3 separate regions of the Homo sapiens genome follow, and regions 1 and 2 are each linked to region 3. The links come from fine-mapping of genetic effects on gene expression. A gene starts in region 3. Each other region holds a variant in brackets. All regions are shown on one strand. Distances are between the middles of the regions. Region 1 overlaps RERG (RAS like estrogen regulated growth inhibitor). Region 2 overlaps RERG (RAS like estrogen regulated growth inhibitor). Region 3 holds the start of RERG (RAS like estrogen regulated growth inhibitor).

Evidence for each region. PIP is the estimated chance that this variant, and not a neighbour inherited with it, causes the effect. A credible set is the group of variants that fine-mapping cannot tell apart.
Region 1: its variant is the best candidate, but not a certain one, in a credible set for the expression of RERG in subcutaneous fat (FUSION, PIP 0.74).
Region 2: its variant is the best candidate, but not a certain one, in a credible set for the expression of RERG in atrial appendage (GTEx, PIP 0.70).

Annotation. Positions count from the first base shown.
Region 1 is chr12:15,115,933-15,118,700 of GRCh38, forward strand. All of the region lies in intron 3 of RERG (RAS like estrogen regulated growth inhibitor), which reads right to left. Among named protein-coding and RNA genes, the nearest start is that of RERG-IT1, 2.7 kb to the left of the region's middle. The variant C/CTTTT (reference allele first, on the strand shown) is at 1,210.
Region 2 is chr12:15,147,103-15,149,870 of GRCh38, forward strand. All of the region lies in intron 2 of RERG (RAS like estrogen regulated growth inhibitor), which reads right to left. Among named protein-coding and RNA genes, the nearest start is that of RERG-AS1, 3.4 kb to the right of the region's middle. The variant GGT/G (reference allele first, on the strand shown) is at 1,257.
Region 3 is chr12:15,219,923-15,222,690 of GRCh38, forward strand. RERG (RAS like estrogen regulated growth inhibitor) reads right to left here and starts at 1,495. Exons shown (of 5, transcript NM_032918.3): 1 at 1,273-1,495. LOC124902886 reads left to right here and starts at 746. Exons shown (of 1, transcript XM_047429948.1): 1 at 746-2,056. The coding sequence starts at 1,323. The coding sequence ends at 1,640.

The sequences.
Region 1 (2,768 bases), 100 kb before region 3:
AATTTAAAAATTAGATTATGTTCAATATTTTAATAAGTGTATTTTATGTTATTGTCATTCTCCTAGAATATGTAATCTATACATGGTGTATGCACAGTGATTCGCAATTTCAGAATATTCCATCCCCCTACTCTTTTATGTTAAATTGGAGATTATAGTTTTGTATGATTTAATGCTCTAAAATACTATTTACAGCAGCCACTTGTCTCCAAGTGTTCTCCCAACGATTTTCTTTTTTCATCTTCAGTGCTGCAGCGTGAGGAAGAGCAGCCCATTCTGCATCACGCATGCTGGGGAGCCATGCCCTTTGGCTTCTCCCTCTGCTGTTCTTTAGTGTCCTTTGTACCGACTTCCCTTTTGAAAAGACTGGCATCAGCCCCAGAGACTGGAAAACAGAGTTCTGGGCTCTATTCCATCTCTTTGCACTAAAAGTTGTCTGAGAGACAGGGACATTTTTCTGTGTTGCTTCCATGATAAATAGGGTATGTATTTCAATTACAGAATGCCACAGTAGGAGGGAAATGGAATATAATAAAAATTATATGAAGTTGTGTGATTCTTTGGCTATTTGTTAACTGAAACAAAAAGGATAAAATGCAGGAAATGAGAGAATGTCTGCCCCAGACATAGCAGCGTGTGGTAGCGTGATTTTGTCTAAGGTGAATACTGGGTTCATACCATTTTAAGCATTTTTTTTTCTTTAAGCTTCTCTCTCTCATTAGAAGCCCATTTTCTCTACGTGTAAAACAATGGAAGTATTGCCCGAAAAGGTAAAGTGTTGTGCATCTACGTGCTAACTTTTCCAGAGTTAACTCTAAAAAAATGTACTAAGTAGTTTTTGAAATTAGACTCCACTATGCATCTTAATACATAAAAGAAAATGTGTATGTGTTTGTTTGGTGGATTTGCTTTTGATTTCGTTCATACTAAACAAAAATAATAAATTGAGCCTTTTTTGGTGAAGGGTGGGGGGATGATTATTTAGGAGATAGTTCCAAGTGAACCAAAATATAGTATACTGTAAGAAAAATATGAGTTTCAAAATGGAATGAGGCATTAAAAGTTACACTTCAATTTCACTGTGAGAGATGTATAATTTAAAATCTGCACTCACTAGTAGTTTAATAACTAGAAGCATATTTTATGTAGTCAAAGAGGAGTTGGTGCTCAAAGGGATATTGCATGTGGTTAATCTTTTTACTGATTTAG[C/CTTTT]TTTTTTTTTTTTTGCGAATTTCAACACTTTAGTATGGACACTTAGCCAGCACAGTAACAGCAGCAGTTAGTTATGTTGATTTATGCCACAATGGAAATTGTACTGAGTTGAGTTCTACTCCTAGTCTAACCACAACTGGACATGTAATTTTGATTAAATTTACTTCTTGGTACCTGTTTCCTTATTTGTCAAATGACAATCTCTAAGCTCCTTGCAGTGCCAATATTAAATAATTAAATAATTCTATGAGTTGGCTAAGCACTTCTGCTTTAGAATCTGGTTAAGATAATTTGTTCTGGGTGTATCTATTTTCGTATGAACGATTCCAAGCAGCAGGAGTTGTAAGGCAGGCAAGAAGAACCAATCACAGAACCAAAGAACTAGTGGGTCTAACGTCTCCTCATTCCCATCCTCATCTGCTTAGAAAACTAAGCAGATTCAAACACAGTGCCTCCAAGGTAACAGTCGCAGTAGTGATAGAGGCTGAAATACAGTCTCTCTCTTCCTCTCCAAATGCCTCCATCACACACGCGCACACACACACACACACACACACACACACACAGTCACAGGCACACACATTCTAAGCCTCTATCTATATTCTCTGTGGTGACCAGCATTCTTAGAGGGTAATATGACTCTTGGAGATAGGGATTCAATTCTTGGTTGGGATCCATTCAGAACATGGATCCTGTTGTTCTACAATCAGATAATTGCTGCCACCACCATCAGGGGGTTTTCATGGTTAGATGGTCCAACTCGCACATCTTATGAGCTTCAGTGGTGGTTTTCAAATGTGGTTCATAGACATCTGTGTGCTGGCCACCCACAAAGATTTCACCGATCCACAGTATAATAAGGAAAATTAAAATAAAACTAAAATTGTTCAATGTAAGGAACTGATTTTTTTTACATTGTATCCTTCGAAACACTCGGATGTTAAAGCAATTTCTTTCTTTTATGAAGTGCAAGTGGAGCGTAGGTTTAGTTCCCCCTCCCCCATTTCCTTCCCTTGCCTGCATCCCTAATTGAATTATTAGGATAGGCTTTCTCCATAAAAATCAAATTTAAAAAAGTGAGTCTGAAACCGAAAAGTTTAGGAGTCACTTGCTACTATAGTAGCAAGCATTTTCTTCATTGAATTATTTCAAAGCAGTAAATATTCTAATTGAGTTAATATGTAGAATGATGTTCATAGTCTTCAGCTTCTCGTGGAGTAACAATTCTGTTCCAGGTTTAAAAAAAAACTGCCCCATGTTTCTCAGGAAAGCACTGACTTCAGAATTCAAGACTGCTTCTTGTATATAAGCTACTTGGCTTTTTAATGTAGTTATCTCTTTTGGTGGTGGTTTTGAAACTTTTAGTCAAAGTAGCTGATATGGTTTGGATCTGTGTCTCCACCCAAATCTCATGTTCATTTGTCATCCCAAATGTTAGAGGTGAGGCCTGGTGGGAGGGGATTGGAGCATGAGGTGGTTTCTCATGGTTTAACACCTTCCTTCGTGGTGCTGTCATCACAATAGTGAGTTCTAGTGGGATCTGGTTGTTTTAAAGTGTC
Region 2 (2,768 bases), 73 kb before region 3:
TCAGTTAAGCCTGGAGTAAAGGTTCATGCCAGATCTCATTTTAACAAAATGAATTCACCAACCCCTAGTAAACATTGGATGAAACTGATAATTATACTGGTGACCAGAAAGACTCCTTGGCCTTGGTTTGCAGAATTATATGACCTTACATTAATATTAGAAATCTAAATGATTAAAATCCAGGTTTGCAAATGAACATCATTTCTGTTGTAAAATTTGCTTTCAGCAAAAAAACATTTTGTAACATTCTTTCACTAAAACAGTCTTTACAAGCCAAATGAGATGGGTATTTGGGGGAAAAATTTTTACTTAATTCAGTACAAAACAATCTGAATAAAGATAGAGAAAAACTGGAATCACTTTCTAACTGTAGTTCTACATAAGTATATTTATTTTTAAGAATACCGAGGGCAGCAAGGAAATTGAAACTTTGTTTTAAAATACATATACATAGAGAACATGTATCTGAAATTATGCCCACTAATCTAGAACACTTGTTTCAAAATGTGACAACTTGTTTAGGAACATTCAACAACAAACACAATATTAACCCAGAATGTTCAATTAAGGATCAGAGCTGAGCAAACTAAAAGGTAGATTATAAGAAATTTATGTATTTAGATGTTGAACCAAAAAGAGAGAGACCATGGAGTTGTTTACTACTTGGGAAAATGTATGTTTATTTAAAATTCAAAGGAATCCTACCAGTTCTATACAATCAAAAATAAGTCTCAGGAATTGGACAGCACATCTGTGAGTCTTAATGGATAATATTAATCCATGTACATGAAACATGTAAAACATATATCAGATTCTCCCAGAATAACATGGAAGAGTGTCCAAATCTCGAATCTCCACTTACAGAGTGGTTAGACGCAAGAAAACACTGCAAATTTGAAATGATGTTCATTTGCAGACCTAGATTTTAATCATTTTGATATATAATATTTATGTAAGGTCATATTCTGCAAACCAAAGCCAGGGAGTCTTTCTGACCAGTGTAATTATATCCTTATAGCCCAGGGAGTGAGTGGAATATATTCTTAGATAACGTGACCTGAGAGAAAAAAGCCAGAGAGAGAAAACATCCAAAATACAAGGCTGTATGTAGGTGGATTCAAAACAAAACAAATTACAAGTGAACTATAAGTAATAAAGTCAGAAGACACCCAGAAGGCTAGGCAGACTGGCCATGATGGGGACTTCTGGGATTTTCAAAAGGAAGATTGGGAATGTTAATTGGAATAAAACAAGAA[GGT/G]GTGAATAAAGAAGGTGCGAATAAAGAAGGTAGAAATGCGGGGGGGAAATGACCTAAAAAACAAACAGCAAATGAAGGACCATGCCAGTGCTGGTCAGCTACAGTGAGCCTCCTGTTTCTGAAAGAACACAGAGATGAGTGTTGCAAGAATCAAACTTAAGACACTGGGAAAACATTTCTATCCATGTAAGCATAGGAAACTTTAAGTGTATTAATTATTAAGGAATACAAGTTATGTGCAGTGACTTGTTAAATAAGCCGCTGATACCAAGCAAGTGCAGAGACATTAAGGAGTCATGAAGTGAATGAGAAGAAGTCACTTTTATTACAACTACTAATTCCCCAGGAATTTGGAGATTTTTAAATACTCGTATATTCCAGCATCATTATTAACATGTCTATTTAGCACTGAAATTTTGGTCTGTACATGAACATCAATCATTTGGGCAATAGTTTCATTAAATTCATTTGCAGTCCTTTAACTCTGTTTTTTTTTTTTTTTTTTTTTTTTTTTTTTTTTTTTTTTTAGACAGAGTCTAGCTCTGTCACCCAGGCTGGACTGCAGTGGCGCCGTCTCGGCTCACTGCAACCTCCGCCTCCTGGGTTCATGCCATTCTCCTGCCTCAGCCTCCCGAGTAGCTGGGACTACAGGCGCCCGCCACCACGCCCGGCTAATTTTTTGTATTCTTTAGTAGAGACGGGGTTTCACTGTATTAGCAAGGATGGTCTCAATCTCCTGACCTCGTAATCCGCCCGCCTCGGTTTCCCAAAGTGCTGGGATTACAGGCGTGAGCCACCGCGCCCAGCCTGCAGTCCTTTAACTCTTAATGTTCAATATCTAATAGTGACTGAGAAAAACAGGGCTGTGTTTATTTGCTTATTTGTTCTTTCTGAAAAATCAAGACTTTTTCATCTATTTTTTATCACTTCATCTCAGGCTTTCCTTATATAGACTGAATTCTGATACTTAATTCTTAACATATTTTAAAATATTAATAGTAAAATGTATCTTTATATTTAAAGCCAAAAAAATGTATCCACATCTACTATGAACAAAGAAAACACCAGTGCTAGGCACTGGTGGGAGGGGAGGTGGATGATACATGAAAGCACAAGACAGAATTAGTACTCAAGGGCTTTGCAGTTCTGATGGGGAGAAAGATGTTCATTAACAATACTAGTTCATGGCAGAATGTGACCTGTGTTGCATACTGGAGGGGAAAAGTGCTACTTCTATAGAAGAGGGTGGAGACTTTAATGAAAGGAATTCCACTTCCAGTAATTTCTCTCAAAAGATCTATTGGACAAATGCAGAAAGTTACATGCACATAGATGATTCTTAGGTTAATATTTAGCCTATTTGTACTAAATAGCCAACAGCATGATTATGCCAACATGCCAATTCACATGGATACTGGATTTAGAAATGGTAGAAAATAAAATACTTTAAAGAAAAGTTGTTTCTGTTCATAAATGGTGTCTAGGACCAGCCTACAGATCTCCACCATCC
Region 3 (2,768 bases):
GGCTATTTTTTCCATTTATAACCTAATAAAGATACAGCTGGTTATTGTCAACCTAATTTTATGTTTAGAAAAATCACTTAAAGGAAGACACAAAACTGACAGGAGTTCTTCAACATTTTATTTCTCACATGAAAATGTGAAAAGTTACATTTGACAAGATAGAAAACAAAAATAAATATGTAAATTGTTGTAATAAGTAAACTGTTGCCAAGTTTCTGATGTTCCAAATAATTCATAATCTGAGAGCTTCCATACGTGGATCTAAGAAAATCCATTTGTCCTAATGTTCTGCTGAAATATTCTGAGTAGGGCTGAAATTTGCCATTCACTTTTTATGTGGATGGTGCTTATTAGGACAAAAACATCTCAGCTGCTATCACTCTAAAGGTAAAATCATACCTATTTAGTTTGAAGGTGTAGGTTTTTTTTTCCCTAAACATAAATTAAAGGAAAAAGGAAAAACGCTAGCTAAAATCCTGTATTATTAGTGATGCATTCATTGATTTATTCCACACTTTCACGCTATGCACATACAAATAAAAGTAGTTCCCTTCGAAGAGCTTACACTCTGTTAGACCTATGATATTTAGATAACTGTAACCTTATTTACTTACTTATTTAAAGAAAGTTTTCATTCCTAATAAATCATTCTCAAGGCTATATTTATCAAGGTTCATGCTTTCTACTTCCTCTTGGGGGTGGGGCAAGCAAGCGTCTTTATAAGGTAATCATGCTTGGAACTTCTGTTTGCATGCGCTCATCAAAATCAAGTGTAGCTATTTAGGGAAGCAAAGACCCTAGTCTAGGCCTGGAAATGAGATTCTCTTCTTTTTTGGCCTCCCCTTCTCTGGTTCTGAAATCAAGTTTTCCTGGTCTCATTACTAGGAATTCTTCCTCTTCTTATCACTACGCAGTACCCACAGCAAACCAGGATAATTGTATAAGCCCCTTGGCTATTTAATGTTGCTCTGAACTCAACAGGTATCTTGCAAGAATAAACAAATCCATTGTGGACTGCAAGTCACTTGCTTTCAGGCTAGGGAGAAAATGCAGCCTTAAGTCAAAAGGGCATTTTCCCTCTCAGCTAGGAGAGCCCTGTCAAGATAGGCTGCTGGTGTTCACATCTCCCTCGCAGCGAACCCCAAAGCCGCCCTGGGAGGAGAACCCGGTGACCAAGAGGACCGACTCAGAGGCCGAGCGCGCTCAGGGCTCGGAATGGGTCTGCAGGAAGTCGTCCCGAAAGAGCTGCCTGGACACGTGCGTGACACTCACCTGTTCACACTCTCCAGGCCAGGAGAGCTACGGTCCTCTGCAAGTTCGGAATGGGTCCCCCAAGATCGCGAAGCCCTCCCACACTGCGCAGCCCAGGCTTCAGGTTGCGTTTGCGAGTTGCTGGGCTGCGGTCGTGGGTGGGACTCGCCGCAGAAGCAAGTGCCAGTGGCCCGGCGGGGGTCTCCTCACTCGCGCTCGCTCCGACTAGCGGCGGAGGGACTGCGGCAGGACGCGAGCTGAGCCCGGCCAAGGCCGCTGCGCTCAGCGGCCAGGATGCTGCAGTGCGGCGCTTCGGCGCCCCCTACTGGGGGCAGGGGCAGGCTCCTCCCGCCGCGCTGCCTCCCAGGCTTGCGAGCTTGGGTCTTTAACGTGCTGCACCCAAGACGGGCTTCCCTTTTTCACTGGTTATTTCCAAGCCTCCAGGCTCCCACCGAAGGGCGGCTTTCCTCGGTCAAAACCTTGCCTAAGAAAGCATCACTACGTGGTGTTTTCTATTCCTTATTTCAAATGATCCTCGCAATATCTCTTTGAAGTATCTTTAATTATCTCCATGATACCCAAGAGGAAACTGAAGGAGAAGGTAACGCAAGGCTAGTAAATGGCTGGAATGAAATCCAGACTGGATTGGGAACTGAGAGATGCTAGGAAAAACAAACAAGGAATTCAATTGAAATTCTATTCATATATTTGAGAAAGTTCCAAAAGCTTCTCGTCCTCCTTACAGGATCAGCATTTATAGGATTTGCATTGGAGTCATACTCCATTATGCTCAGACCCTAACAAAGACAATTAATATGCGAGCTGTGCTGGACCTGCTTTCATATCCCTCATCTGATTTGATTTTTACACCCTCTCTTCATGTAAGAACTAGTATTATAATTACTAGCCTTTCACAGATGAGGAGGTGAGCTTCAGAGAGGCTAAATGATCTCCCAAAAACTGAAACATCTGAGCAAAGAAGCAGGAGGCACTTATGTTATTGTTTTTCCCTTATAAATCTGGGTATTCTTACCAAGATACCAAACGGCTTCCAGAAAACCAGTGTTATATAGAACAGACAGGGGCCTAGGGCAAACTGAACGATCTGTAGAATGTCATCAATGGGAAGGGAGGTAACCATGGAGGCAATTTCCAGAGTCCAGACTGACCTGGAAGGTCACTGCAGCCACGAGTGAATGGCTGAATGGAACAGCTAGATCTATGGCAAAAAGAGGAGTTGCCTAGCTGAGCAGGAGCTGCCCTGCTGGTTCTTTGAGAAAGCTCAAACATTGTATGGTTTATGAGTTTCCTGATCACTAATGTACCCCTCCCTCCACACCACATACATCTGGATTAGATGCCTCCCTCTGTATCTCACAGGACCCTGTGATCTTATCATTGTGTTTGTGTTGTACTCATTTCTGCCCCTTAGTCCTCTCCATTAATCTGTGAGCTCCCAGAAGCCAGGAATGTACCATGTGTGACTTCTGTATTCCCAGCATCATCCATACAGTGTG